2 linked regions of the Homo sapiens genome follow. The protein of the gene in region 2 purifies or fractionates together with the protein of the main gene of each other region. This does not show direct contact. Each region holds a gene or a part of one and is shown on either strand. Other genes may lie near its edges.

The links.
Region 1: the proteins of CABS1 (region 2) and TRAPPC9 purify together in Homo sapiens (affinity purification with mass spectrometry; 3 studies listed by BioGRID and IntAct, with this or other methods). This does not show direct contact.

The regions. Positions count from the first base shown.
Region 1 is NC_000008.11:140,437,081-140,440,834, forward strand, and holds part of TRAPPC9 (trafficking protein particle complex subunit 9), read right to left. Parts: intron 2,118-3,754; coding exon 1,972-2,117; intron 1-1,971. UniProt on the Homo sapiens protein: Functions as an activator of NF-kappa-B through increased phosphorylation of the IKK complex. May function in neuronal cells differentiation. May play a role in vesicular transport from endoplasmic reticulum to Golgi.
Region 2 is NC_000004.12:70,332,709-70,336,462, forward strand, and holds the start of CABS1 (calcium-binding and spermatid-specific protein 1), read left to right. Parts: upstream 1-2,272; 5' UTR 2,273-2,331; coding exon 2,332-3,519; 3' UTR 3,520-3,638; intron 3,639-3,754.

The sequences.
Region 1 (3,754 bases), on a different chromosome or scaffold from region 2:
ACCCTCACAAGTAGCTGGGACTACAGGCACAGACCACCAAGCCCAGCTAATGTCTTTTTATTTTATTTTATTTTATTTTATTTTGGTAGAAGTGAGGTCTCCCTATGTTGCTCAGGCTGGTCTCCACCCAGTTAATGTTTTTTAATTTTGTTTTGTAGAAGTGAGGTGAAGTAAGATTTTTTTATTTTTTATTTTTTGTAGAAGTGTTGGGATTACAGGCATGAGCCACCATGCCTGGCCGTTTGAAGTATTTCTTATATTTGGCTGGGCACAGTGGCTTATGCCTGTAATCCCAGCACTCTGGGAGGCCAAGGCAGGCATATCAGCTGAGGTCGAGTTCAAGAGCAGCTCGGCCAACATCGCAAAACCCCGTCTCTACTAAAAATAGAAAATTTAGCCGGGTGTGGTAGTGCATGCCTGTAAGTCCCAGCTACTCGGAAGGCTGAGGCAGGAGAATCGCTTGAACCCAGGAGGCGGAGATTGCAGTGAGCCAAGATCATGCCACTGCACTCCAGCCTGGGCAACAGAGCGAGACTCCGTCCCCAAGAACGAAAGAATTTGTTATATTTAATATGTTCTACGGCACCTCGTTAAACTTCTGTTACAGAACTCACCTCATTACTTCATTCCGACTTGTATTATCATAAGTGGCTGACAGGTGTCCTTGCTAAACTGTCAACCTCAACGAAAGAACCCTGTTTTAGTCCTTACCCACACAATGGACTCAGCCAGTCCATCCTCCCAGGACCACCTCCAGGAGGCGCAGTCCCCAAAGGGAAGACCACACACAGACATCCGATTCCACCACGAAGTGTCAGCAACATCTCAGGCAGGGCACCCGCTCTGCCGACTGCTGCGGGGGATCAGAGATGGCTGTGCTTTGAAGTAGGATTTCTTCTTCCCTTTCTTTTAATTTTTAAGATTGACATAGAGTTCACATACCATATAATTCACCCACTTAAAGTGTGCAAGTCAGCAGTTTTTAGTATATTCACAACTGTGCAACCATCACCACTAACTGACTCTGGAACATTTTCATCACCCCAGAAAGAAACCTTATGCCCGTTAACTGTCACTTCCCATTCCCCCTCCTCCCAGCCCCTAGAACCAGTTGTCTACTTTCTGCTTCTATAGATTTGCCTATTCTAGCCACTTCATATATATAGAATCATACAATCTGCGGCCTTTTTCATGCCTGCCTTCTCTCACTTAGCACAAAGTTGTCAAGGTTCATCCGTGCTGCAGTGGTATCACAATTTCACTCCTTTTCATGGCTGAATAATATTCCGCTGTATGCCCATACCACATTTCGTTTATCCATTCATCATGTGACACATGGAGGAGGTTTTGAGGGAGGAGTCTAAGAGGTGAAGATCATGGGGAACGGCATCCAAAGCAGAGGGCAAGGTATACTAAGAACAGAGGAAAAGGGAAAGTGTGGGCAGGGCCTCCTTCAGAGGACGCATGGCAGGGTGGGAGGAGGGCAGCAGATACAGCAGGGAAGCATCCCAGGCCACTGCTCGTGGCAACCAGCACAGGCTGGCTGCTTTTCCTCCCTCATCCCTTCTTTTTGGGGAATTTCTTCTGCCGTTTCCTCTCATTTCTTTTTTTATTTTATTTTATTTTTTTTTGAGATGGAGTCTCGCTCTGTTGCCAGGCTGGAGTGCAGTTGTGCAACCTCTGCTCACTGCAACTTCTGCCTCCTGGTTCAAGAAATTCTGCTGCCTCCGCCTCCCGAGTAGCTGGGACTATAGGCGCGTGCCACCACGCCCAGCTAATTTTTGTATTTTTAGTAGAGACGTGGTTTCACCATGTTGGCCAGGATGGTCTCAATCTCTTGACCTCATATTTGGCCTGCCGTAGCCTCCCAAAGTGCTGGGATTACAGGCGTGAGCCACCGCACCCAGCCTCTCATTTTAATTAACAGTTGAAACAATTACATATCAGATCATCTTCATCAGCTCATCTTACCTCCAAGCCACAGAAAGTCATTCACAGAACGCAGCAGCTCCACCGACATGTGGTAATGCACCAGGGAGTCCTGCAGCATCCCTGCCTGCAGGCACAGGTCCCCCACGTGCTTCCGCATGCGGCCTTGGCACCGCTTCTTGTAATGTCTAGAAAATACATGAAAATGTATCTTTATTACTATACAACTCCCACCCAGAAAGCACTCTGACTAAGCACTATTCAATTCTCTCACTACTAAAAATGCTAAGAAGGCAACTGTAGGCTCTATAATTTTAAGTCAGCAATAATCATTGCCAGTTATGTGAGCTGGAGTGGTCTTAATTTCAAAAATGTACTGCCAAGCAATTTGTTTAAAGGTGATCGGTACGTAAGGACTTCTACCATGTCTTTCACGTAGGCAATGTTACAGTTGGATTTTTCTTTTTAGATTTTCCAGTTGTAACATTAGCATAAGGAAGTTTATGTTTCAGCTTTTTAAAAAAATCAATTATCTTCCACTTCTTAACATCAAACCTCTTATTATTTTATAAAGACAGCTATGCTGAGTCTTATTAGCCAACCATTTGGCTTTAGCAAACAAGACGTTCATCCTCGCTATTTCAGGGCAAGCTTTAGGAAAGCTTCCAGAGAGCAGGGCCTGGGGTGCTCACTAACAGCTCTTTAAATATTGGCAAGGATATACCACTAAATAATGCAAAGGCTTCTGAGTCCCTAATCAACTCAGAAACCAAAGAAACTGTACCAAAGTATTCCTTTTATCATTTTTAAATACATCTAACCTTTAAATGTTATATTTCTTAAGATAGATGATTTTTTTTTTAAAGAAAAACTGCAGCTGGATTAAACTTTCCCTCATCAAGAAAGCAAACTTATCAAGAATAAAACTCCTCTGGAAATCCAGAAGATGTGACGTTTCTAAGTAAATGAATGTTATTGACACATCTCAATACAATGTTAAATCCTATCATGTGTAACTCTAACGAGTTCAACAAACTCTTTGTTACTCTGGAATTTAGCATTTCCATTCTGAATAAGTTTTAAACAAAGATCACAACGTAAGGCAGACGCAGAAAGAAAAAGAAACGCCAGCCTTCGTTTGTCTCCTTCCTGGCCACAAGGCAGTGTCAGGATGGCCCCTGCTAACAGACCCTCCCCATAAGAAAATACAGCATCTAGCAGGGTGCAGTGGCTCACGCCTGTAATCCCAGCACTTTGGGAGACCGAGGCGGGCGGATCACAAGGTCAGGAGATCGAGACCATCCTGGCTAACACGGTGAAACCCCATCTCTACTAAAAATACAAAAAATTAGCCGGGCGTGGTGGCACGCGCCTGTAGTCCCAGCTACTCAGGAGGCTGAGGCAGGAGAATCACTTGAACCCGGGAGGCGGAGGTTGCAGTGAGCCGAGATCATGCCACTGCACTCCAGCCTGGGGGACAGGGTGAGACTCCCAAAAAAAAAAGAAAAGAAAAGAAAGGCATCTGAGCTGCTCTTCCCATCCCAACAGCAGTCACCTCAGCAGCCTCCGCCTAGTCTCTGACTCCTCACCCTGCACCCCCTTCCCCTTCATTGCTTCTATACACACACAGCCAGAGTGTCCTTCCCAAAGCACAAATCAGTCTGTGTCCCTCCCCCACTGCAAACCTTTCACAGGATGCTCAATTCAGTCGTAGGGAGAGGCATGCAGTCCATAGCTAGCCCCTCCCACGGCTCTGGCTTCCCCTCCTACCACTGTGGCTTTGCACTCCACAGGCAACCTTGCTGCAACGCTGAAGTCCCCCAAC
Region 2 (3,754 bases):
CATACTGCCCAAGGTAATTTATAGATTCAATGCCATCCCCATCAAGCTACCAATGACTTTCTTCACAGAATTGGAAAAAACTACTTTAAAGTTCATATGGAACCAAAAAAGAGCCCGCATTGCCAAGTCAATCCTAAGCCAAAAGAACAAAGCTGGAGGCATCACACTACCTGACTTCAAACTATACTACAAGGCTACAGTAACCAAAACAGCATGGTACTGGTACCAAAACAGAGATATAGATCAATGGAACACAACAGAGCCCTCAGAAATAATGCCGCATATCTACAACTATCTGATCTTTGACAAACCTGAGAAAAACAAGCAATGGGGAAAGGATTCCCTATTTAATAAATGGTGCTGGGAAAACTGGCTAGCCATATGTAGAAAGCTGAAACTGGATCCCTTCCTTACACCTTATACAAAAATCAATTCAAGATGGATTAAAGATTTAAACGTTAAACCTAAAACCATAAAAACCCTAGAAGAAAACCTAGGCATTACCATTCAGGACATAGGCGTGGGCAAGGACTTCATGTCCAAAACACCAAAAGCAATGGCAACAAAAGACAAAATTGACAAATGAGATCTAATTAAACTAAAGAGCTTCTGCACAGCAAAAGAAACTACCATCAGAGTGAACAGGCAACCTACAACATGGGAGAAAATTTTCGCATCCTACTCATCTGACAAAGGGCTAATATCCAGAATCTACAATGAACTCAAACAAATTTACAAGAAAAAAACAAACAACCCCATCAAAAAGTGGGCGAAGGACATGAACAGACACTTCTCAAAAGAAGACATTTATGCAGCCAAAAAACACATGAAGAAATGCTCATCATCACTGGCCATCAGAGAAATGCAAATCAAAACCACTATGAGATATCATCTCACACCAGTTAGAATGGCAATCATTAAAAAGTCAGGAAACAACAGGTGCTGGAGAGGATGTGGAGAAATAGGAACACTTTTACACTGTTGGTGGGACTGTAAACTAGTTCAACCATTGTGGAAGTCAGTGTGGCGATTCCTCAGGGATCTAGAACTAGAAATACCATTTGACCCAGCCATCCCATTACTGGGTATATACCCAAATGAGTATAAATCATGCTGCTATAAAGACACATGCACACGTATGTTTATTGCGGCACTATTCACAATAGCAAAGACTTGGAACCAACCCAAATGTCCAACAATGATAGACTGGATTAAGAAAATGTGGCACATATACACCATGGAATACTATGCAGCCATAAAAAATGATGAGTTCATATCCTTTGTAGGGACATGGATGAAATTGGAAACCATCATTCTCAGTAAACTATCGCAAGAACAAAAAACCAAACACCGCATATTCTCACTCATAGATGGGAATTGAACAATGAGATCACATGGACACAGGAAGGGGAATATCACACTCTGGGGACTGTGGTGGGGTTGGGGGAGGGGGGAGGGATAGTATTGGGAGATATACCTAATGCTAGATGACACATTAGTGGGTGCAGCGCACCAGCATGGCACATGTATACATATGTAACTAACCTGCACAATGTGCACATGTACCCTAAAACTTAGAGTATAATAAAAAAAATAAAATAAAATAAAATAAAAATAAATGAAAAAAAAAAAAACAAAAAACAAAAAAAGAAAAAAAAAAAAAAAAGACCCAAACAGGCCAATAACTATTAGTTATTATCTCTACTGAAAAAGTGGGACTTCCTGTTATGAATAAGGGAACTAACTGAATTCCCTGCTACCTAATTACCTTCTGTAGCTATACTTACTGACAAAAACACCATTAATTTTTTTAGATACCAATTTTTTTTAATACTATGAATCTTAAGGGAAAATGGCTTCACCTCAAAAATACTCTGTTACTTGCTTGGAAGATAGACGACTTTAAGCTGATGCTGATAAACTTGTGGCTTCCAAAGTTTTCCTTACTAATTCTAAACCCAAAAGGTGCCTGGCAGTCTCTGCTATGTCTGTTTCAAGTAACCCTAGCTCTATATCAGGAGACATTTTCCTTATAAACAGAAACATGGTAAATCTTAAGTTCCCTGCAATTGAAATGCTTGGCTGTGAATTTGATTTCATAATCAGAGCGGACTCTATAGTCTTTTCATTCAATATTCCTGCAATTAGATAACCAATCGCAGCCTAGAAACAACCTCCAAGGAGACCCAGTGACATTGCTCCCATAGTTGATGCAACAATCACCATGATGACCCAAGCTTTAATCACTCTGATGAACACTGCTCTCCTGCCTAGAGATACCACTGAGTCCAGAAGCAAGACCTGTGAGAGTGCACAGTGCCACTTCGCCCCATGGCTGAAGATGGTTTGCCCAAAATTTATTCTCATCCTCCAACAGAAAGCAGTAAAACACCAACTGCAGCAACCATTTTCTTTGGGGCTGACAATGCTATTCCCAAATCAGAAACAACTATTACTTCAGAAGGAGACCACGTCACTTCAGTAAATGAATATATGCTAGAAAGCGATTTTTCAACAACTACAGACAACAAACTGACAGCTAAAAAGGAAAAACTCAAATCAGAAGATGATATGGGGACCGACTTTATTAAGTCAACAACTCACCTACAGAAAGAAATTACCTCTCTGACTGGCACTACAAACTCCATAACAAGAGACTCTATTACCGAACATTTCATGCCAGTGAAAATTGGGAATATTTCATCACCAGTTACTACTGTTTCTTTAATAGATTTTTCCACTGACATAGCAAAAGAAGATATCCTCTTAGCTACCATTGACACAGGAGATGCAGAGATCTCAATAACCTCTGAAGTCTCTGGCACACTAAAGGACAGCAGTGCTGGTGTTGCTGACGCTCCTGCCTTTCCACGTAAAAAGGATGAAGCTGATATGAGCAATTATAATTCCTCCATCAAATCCAATGTCCCTGCTGATGAGGCTGTCCAGGTCACTGATTCCACTATTCCTGAGGCTGAAATCCCTCCTGCTCCTGAAGAAAGCTTCACTACTATTCCAGACATAACTGCCCTTGAAGAAGAGAAAATAACCGAAATTGACCTAAGTGTTTTAGAAGATGACACCAGTGCTGTGGCTACATTAACTGACTCTGATGAGAAGTTTATCACTGTGTTTGAACTCACTACCTCTGCTGAAAAAGACAAAGATAAACGGGAAGATACTCTGCTAACTGATGAAGAAACTACCGAGGGAGCCAGTATTTGGATGGAGAGAGATACTGCAAATGAAGCAGAGACCCATTCTGTTTTGCTTACTGCTGTTGAATCCAGATATGACTTCGTTGTCCCTGCATCAATAGCTACAAACCTAGTGGAAGAATCATCTACAGAAGAAGATTTGTCTGAAACTGATAATACAGAGACTGTACCTAAGATCACTGAGCCATTTTCTGGAACTACCTCTGTATTAGATACCCCAGACTATAAGGAAGACACCTCCACAACTGAAACGGATATCTTTGAACTACTGAAAGAAGAACCCGATGAGTTCATGATTTAAAAGCAACAAAAGGGATACCATGTAGAATTGTGCAATAGTCTAGCCAGCTAGCCTTAACATCTAAGAAATTTTTCCAACAAGCAAAAACCTTTAGAAATGAAAGAATGTGGGCATTTAAGGCAAGTATTCGACTCAATAAATGCAGATGCTTAGGACTACAGGTCATGTAACAGATTTACGGAAACTTAGAAAAAAAAACCGCAGTGTAAGGGTCCCCCTAGTATCACAAAGTTTC